Linked DNA regions of Homo sapiens. The protein of the gene in region 1 interacts with the protein of each later gene in a pairwise test. Each region holds a gene or a part of one and is shown on either strand. Other genes may lie near its edges. The genes, in order: TXK and CLNK.

Region 1 (3,826 bases):
CACCTGGCCGGCGTTCTTTATGATTACAAAACTCCATGGTGTGATCTCAGATCTCATTTACCTAGGCACATCCACAGCCATTTGTTCACTGGCATCTTTCTGCCTTTCCAAGGGCTCCACCTGGGGAAAAGAGCACTGGTTCTGTGTCACTTTTAAATCCCACCAACCTAATGTGGGAGTAGGAGCTTCTTTCCTAAAGTACTTGGGCAGCCCTTTAGGGTACAAGATACAGGACCCTAACCCACTGATCTACTAATGTCTAGTACCCCCCTTTTCTTTCCCTTCTATTTCCCCCATTCCTCTTTTTGGGGGAAAAAGATCCCCCCAAAGCTCAGGGGATCTTTTTCTAGATAGTGGTGGTAATAGGGGTGGTGGTAGTGAGATCTCACTCCTGTTCATGGCCCATTTTCCAAGATATTTTGTTAATAACTCAATCTTTCTTCTCTGAAGAGCCTAGACTTGAAAAATTCAAAATCTATAAACAGTGGCTTTTCTCTCTTTGTTTTCTGTTAGTCATTCTTTACCTAAGTAGAATGACCTCTGACTCAATAAAGTGCTGACAGGTGGAGGGAGGTAGTGTATTTAAAAAAAAAGTGAGAGTATAGGGGCAGCATTAATAAATGCTGTGAAAACACTATATTGTATATTTAAGGGGCAACAAGCACAAGTTTATTTTTGTCTCTTCTCCTCAGTGTCTGACATTTGGACATCCCGGTGTACAATTCTCAAAAAAGAGAGAGGGTTCAACTTGTTATTTTTTTAAGGAGACGGTAGTTATTCTTGGTTTCTTTCCATATAGGGCCATTCTAGTGCATTAGAGATTTGTCATATCAGAAGCATTATGTTCATATACTTTTACTTTCCCCCCTTCTGTATGCCCCACAAAAAAACATGCACATGGAAGAAAATTCGACATCCAACTTTGAATCATTCATTTCCATTTTAAGAAGAGTGGTCTTTGTTTTCCCCACCCCTGGGAAGAGTGGTCTTTTATTTCCTTTTTATAATCTTGGTTGTTAGAGCCTTTAGCAGGCTTCTTTGTAGAGTTAAGAATTTACCATAATTAACATAAACAGTGAGCCATGTTTTGAACTGAAGCAGCATTATGATTTTCAGAGGTCCACGTAAAACAAATACAATTGAGACTTTGTTTGGGGAGGAAACATTATCAGGGACACTTTCACACTCTACTAACAAGAAGGCATCCACAACCTTTCTGGGGTAAAATACTTTGTCTTTTAGCAACTTAGAGTTAACTAAAGGGATTTGAAGTAAATAGAGCTTGGAGGTAATTAACACAATATGCTTTGAATCTGATAAACTTAGGTACGTTTTGGATGATGAGTATGTCAGTTCTTTTGGAGCCAAGTTCCCAATCAAGTGGTCCCCTCCTGAAGTTTTTCTTTTCAATAAGTACAGCAGTAAATCTGATGTCTGGTCATTTGGTGAGTGCATCTGATGTTCACTTGCTGGAGCTTGATTTAATAAAATGGGCAATGTGTTATTTTTAACTTTGATTTCCTAATTGATATAGCATTTTTTAAAAAGTCTTCTTGTAATTGTGCTTCCTTCTGTGTGTTCTAACCACATCCCGACTGTCTTTGGCAACTGGTGTCACATACCTTCTTACATAAGTCTGCCTTTTGGATCTTTTCCTTCCTCCATGGGCACTCACTATAAAACCATAACAAAGAGTCTACTGATCTAGAAAACAAACTCAGATAAGTTTTCCACTCCGCAGAGGCTTGAAGGAAAAATGATCTTATGACATTGTTTAGAGTGTAATTAATAAACTTAATTGTCTAAACTGTGAAGCAGGTTGACTATTTTCCAGTTGTTCAGTTGTTAACCTGAACTTAAAACCTGAGTTTAAAAAATGGTGGCATCTCATTTACTTCCTTAACTTTAAAGTTTGTGGAATTTAGACATAGGCTTCCTTGGGATCTATAAATTGATATTCATATTGGATAATGTTCTTCATTGAGAAAGAGACACCATAGACCCACGTCCAATGAAGTTTCGGGGTTGATTTTCAAAAAATGGTAATAAATATGCAAAAATCTATCTATCCTCTTTCACCCCAAACTTCCTGGAGGCTTGTGGGTTCTGGGTCCTCAGAAGGGTGTCAGTTTTATTGTCTACAATAAGGTTAAAACTGGGCACAGTGGCTCAGGCCTACAATTCCAGCACTTTGGGAGGCTGAAGTGGGAGGATTGTTTGAGACCAGGAGTTCAAGACTAGCCTGGGCAACCTAGCAAGACTCTGTCTTTACAAAAAAAAAAAAAAAATTAGCCAGGTGTGGTGGCATATACCTGTAGTCCCAGTTCCTCGGGAGGCTGAGGCAGGAGGATTGCTTGAGCCCAGGAGTTTGAGGTTATAGTAAGCTAGGATCGTGCCACTGTACTCCAGCCTGGATGACAGAGCAAGACCCTGCCTCAAAAAAATTAAAACATAAATTTAAAAACATACAATAAAGTTAAGCTTGTGTCATTAATCTCATTAGCTCTCCATGGACATATGATAGTCTCAGCAGGTGACACTTGAAGCTCTACTGAAGAGCAATTAGGTTGTGAGACCACATCTTAGAGACCAATGAAGAGCAATATAACGACCTCATCGAAGGTTGCCAAACAATTAGAACTCCCTGAATTTTACCTACTTGTCTCCCTCACTGAACAGTGAGCTCCTTAGGCACATGGATTGATCTCACACTTATAAAATCTCCAGGCCCCAGCAGAGGCCTCGCCTCTCATCAATGTCTAGTAAATATTTGTAGAATAAGTGAATAATTAAATGAACTCAAATTAGGAGTTCTTGCAGGAGTTTCACTAATCAATCAATCAATGATTATTGGACATCTACTTATGTACAGAGCCCCTGCTAGATATTCTGGGGCTCTGCCCATCAGTCTAATCTTTTAGCAGAAAGAAGGGGACACATGCCATTTACTGGCTGAAACTCTTGGCTAAGTAGGCAGCAGAGGCTCACATAATCCTGTCAGTTTCTATGGAATGGCAGAAAGGTTCATTGATTTCAGGATGCAGGAACGTGACTGCTGCTTAGAAATGAAAATGCTAGGCCGGGCGTGATGGCTTACGTTTGTAATTCCAGCACTTTGGGAGGCTGAGGTGGTCGAATCACCTGAGGTCAGAGCTCGAGACCAGCCTGGCCAACATGGTGAAACCCCGCCTCTACTAAAAATAGAAAAATTAGTTGGGCGTGGTGGTGGGCACCTATAATCCCAGCAACTCAGGAGGCTGAAGCAGAAGAATTGCTTGAACCCGGGAGACAGAGGTTGCAGTGAGCTGAGATCATGCCACTGCACTCCAGCCCGGTAGACAGAGGTTGCAGTGAGCTGAGATCATGCCACTGCACTCCAGCCCGGGCGACAGAGCGAGACCCTGTCTCAAAAAAAAAAAAAAAGAAAAGAAAATGCTACTGGCATTTTCTCCTGATAGGAGAGGCAATCAAGACCCATGGACAAGGAAAGGCATTGTTTTCACTTAGATTATTTTCAGGTTACAGGCCTCTTTGAAAACTAAAGTGAACATGATTTGCTTCCTTGACAGAACCGCTGTTATTCAGGATGGTTATAGCCCAAAGCCTGGAGCACAAAAATAATGCCTTGTAGTTTGAAATTGTTCTTTCAGTTCCCAAGCAATCATTTCTCTCTAACCCCTTGTTTTCCTGCATTTTTGTTTGCAGGAGTTTTAATGTGGGAAGTTTTTACAGAAGGAAAAATGCCTTTTGAAAATAAGTCAAATTTGCAAGTCGTGGAAGCTATTTCTGAAGGCTTCAGGCTATATCGCCCTCACCTGGCACCAAT
Region 2 (3,826 bases), about 38 Mb from region 1:
ACAGGTACTGAGTTCCTGCTGTGGAATAGATACCAAAGTAGAGACTTGAGATACATTTTCTCAATGAACAACAACAAGATAAGGTGGGTTTAGTCATCTCCAATTTACAGATTGAACATCTCAGTCAGGGAGCTTAAGTAACCTTTCCAAGAATGCAAGATCAAGAGTCATGTCTGTGCTTACACATAACATGATGCCGGCTGCAGATTTTAATGCGGAGGAGCACATTCCAGAATTCCTATAATGACCATTGTGTGTGAGTGCATCTGTTGCAGACTGGTGTCCATTCCTGCCAGTCTAGTGTTCAGACCCAGAGCCTTTGATAGGTGCCTGTGTTAGTCTTCTAGTGTTGCCATAACAATATGCCATAAACTGGATGGCTCAAACAACAGAGGTTTATTTTCTCATGACTCTGAAGACCAGAAGTCCAAGACCAAAGTGCCAGTAGGGTTGGCGAGAACTATCCCCTTGGGATGCAAATGACTACCCTCTCCCTGTGTGCTCACATGGCCTTTCCTCAGTGTGTGCATTTGGGGACGGGTGGGGAGAGAGAGGGAGAAACCCAGAGAAAGAGAGAGAGAGAACTCTCTGGTGTCTCTTCTTATAAGAACACTAATCCTATCAGATAAGAACCCCACCCTCAAATGTTGTGCAGTACCAATGGTCTGTAACCTGGTCTCCTGGCTCCATTTCAGGAATGGAAAAATGACCAAAAAAAAAAAAAAAAAAGGGCAGTCTTGGCCAATTCACTTGGGGAGGAGGTGGCTGGGGGAATATGAACCCACAGAATTTTCTTGACTATACATTTTACCTAAATTCTCACACCTAAACCTGATCGAATGAACTAGAATTTCAAAAATGATGGTGTCAGCTTTAGCACAAAATTTCACATTGCAGTTGCTTTTACTGTGATAGTGTCACATTTTAAGACAATATACAGAGAGTGGTGTCACTTCTTGAGGCCCCACCCTTCACAGTAAAGACCCAAATAATTGCATTTGTTTTCCATTGCTGTGATGTCACATCCCCACAGATTTGGCAGCTTGACCATTTATTATCGCACAGTGGATGCAATCAGAAGTCTGGGCACAGCATGGCTCAACTAGTTCCCCTGTTCTGGGTCTCACAAGACTGAAAGCAACATGCTGGCAGGGCTGCATTCTCCTCCAGGGGCTCTGAAGAGGAACTTGCTTCCAGATTCTTTCGGGTTGTTTCATAGAATCCAGTTCCTTTCTGTTGTAGGACTGTGGTCCCCATGTCCCTGCTGGCTGGCTGTTGTCAAATCCTTCTACTCTTGGACTCCTCTATCTAAATTGTCCTTCTGCCAGATCTCTCTTTCTTTCTTGTCTACTTCCTTTCTCTGACTTCCTCTTCTGCTTTTTAAAACAGGTTTTTCTGAGATAAAATCTACCTGCCATTCAATTTACGCATTTTATGAGTACAATTTAATGGTTTTTTTGTATATTCACAGAGTTGCATAACCATCACTCCAATCAATATATTTTTATCATCTCAAAATGAAACCCAGTCCCCCCTTCCCCCAGACCTTGGCAAATATTAATCTACTCTTTATCTATAGATCCTCCTCTTCCAGACATTTCATATAAACAGAATCATGCAACATTCCATTTTGTATATGACTCCCTTCTTTCATTTAACGTAATATTATCAAGGCTTATCCATGTTATAGCATATATCAGTACTTTACTCGTTTTCATTGCTGAATAATATTCCATTGTGTGACTATACAACACTTTATTACCTATGCAGTAGTTCATGGATACTTGGGTTATTTCCACTTTTTTACTATTAAGAAAAATACTGCTATAAACATGTGCTAGTTTTTGTGTGAATGTGGAGTTGCTGGATTATATGGTAGCTCTGTGTTTAACCTTTTGAGGAACTGCCAAAGCATTTTCTGCAGCAGCTGTACCCTGTTACATTCCCATCAGCAATGCATGAGATCCTCAAATTCTCCACATTCTTGTCAGCCCTGATTATTTTCTGTCTTTTTTTAAATCATCTTGGTGTTGTATGGCTGACATCTCATTGTGCTTTTGAGTTGCATTTTCCTAATGGCTAATGATATTGAGCATCTCTCCATGGGATTATTGATGGTTTGCATATCTTCTTTGAAGAAACATCCATTCATATCCTTTTCCCACTTTAAAATTTGGTTATTTATCCTTAGATCATTGCATTGTAAGAGTTTTTCATATACTCTGGATTTAAGCTCCTTATCAGATACATGATTTGCAAATATTTTCTTCATTCCACAGTTGCCTTTTTATTTTTTGTGGTCTTTTGAAGCACACAAGATTTTCATTTTAATTAAGTCCAATTTATCTATTTCTTTTATTGCTTGTATTTTTTTGTTCTATCTAAGTAATCATTGCCTAAGCCAAGAAATGAAGATTTACTCCAATATTTTAAGGGTTTTATAGTTTTAGCTGTTAAATTTATATTCAAGGCCCATTTGCACTTAATTTTTGCATATGATATAAAAAAGAGGTTCAGCCTCACTGCCATGCATGTGGATATCCAGTTGTCCTAGGACTATCTGTTGAAAGACTATTCTTTCCACCCATTGTATTGTCTTAGTACACTTCTTAAAAATCAATTAACCCTCAGTGTGAAGGTTTATTTCTGGACCCTCAATTATATTCCAATTATCCGCACATCTATCTTACTACCAATACCACATTGTCTTGATTACTGCATCTATGTAGTAACTTTTGAAATAAGTGTTAGTCCTCCAACTTTATCTTTTTTTTTTTTTTTTTTTTCCCAAGATTGTTTTGGCTATTCTTGGTTCTTCTTATTTTCTTAAGAATTTTAGGATTATCTTGTCAATTTCTGCAAAATAAATCAGTGTGTTAATTTGCAAAGTATTTCTATTTTAACAAGATTAAGTCTCCCAATCCATGATCATTAGTCATCTTTCCATTTATTTAGGTCTTCTGAAATTACTATCAACAGTGTTTTTGCAGTTTTCAGTGTACAAATTTTGCACTTCTTTTGTTAAATGTATTTCCATATATTTTATTCTCCTTGATGCTATTGCTAATATAATCGTTTTCTTTTTTAAAACATTTTTGTACAGATGAGGTCTCACTCTGTTGCCCAGGCTGTTCTCAAACTCCTAGCCTCCAGCAATCCTCCTACCTCAGCCTCCCAAAGCGCTGGGATTACAAGCATGAGCCACCGCACCTAGCCCATTTTCTTAATTTCTATTTTCAATTTGTTATTACTAATTTATAGAAATATAAATTGTCATTACTAGCATATAGAAATACAACTGAATTTGGTATATTAATCCTGTATCCTGCCACCTTGAGGAATTATTTATTAGTTCTAATAATTTTTTAGTGAATTCTTCAAATACAAGATTATCTTATTTGCAAGTAAGTCCTCTTTCTGCTTCTAAGGGTTCATGTGATTACATTGGGCCCACCCAGGTAATCCAGGACAATCTGCCTATTTTAAGGTCAGCTGATTAGTGACCTTCATTACATCTGCACTGTCCCTTCACAGCAGTACCTAGATTAGTATTGATTCAGTAACCAGAGATGAGAATATTGGGAGATATCTTTAGAATTCTCACTAGCACAAGAATTAAACTTCTATTTAAGATCCCAGACCCTAGATTCTTAAATATTTAACTTGCAGCTAAGAAGGTCTACCCCATTTCTCTAGCCAGCACTGTAGCCTGTCTTTGTCAACATTGTACCTTCCTTTGACTCACTGGAATGTTACCACCTGCTTAGGAAAGAAACTTTGCTGCAGTCCTGGATGGAGCAAAAGGCCACAGTGATGATGACTATGA

Evidence for each region.
Region 2: the proteins of TXK (region 1) and CLNK interact in a two-hybrid assay, tested with the Homo sapiens proteins (one large-scale study listed by BioGRID and IntAct).

Annotation. Positions count from the first base shown.
Region 1 is NC_000004.12:48,071,554-48,075,379, reverse strand, and holds part of TXK (tyrosine-protein kinase TXK), read left to right. Parts: intron 1-1,326; coding exon 1,327-1,445; intron 1,446-3,705; coding exon 3,706-3,826. UniProt on the Homo sapiens protein: Non-receptor tyrosine kinase that plays a redundant role with ITK in regulation of the adaptive immune response. Regulates the development, function and differentiation of conventional T-cells and nonconventional NKT-cells.
Region 2 is NC_000004.12:10,566,092-10,569,917, reverse strand, and holds part of CLNK (cytokine-dependent hematopoietic cell linker), read left to right. Parts: intron 1-3,767; coding exon 3,768-3,826. UniProt on the Homo sapiens protein: An adapter protein which plays a role in the regulation of immunoreceptor signaling, including PLC-gamma-mediated B-cell antigen receptor (BCR) signaling and FC-epsilon R1-mediated mast cell degranulation.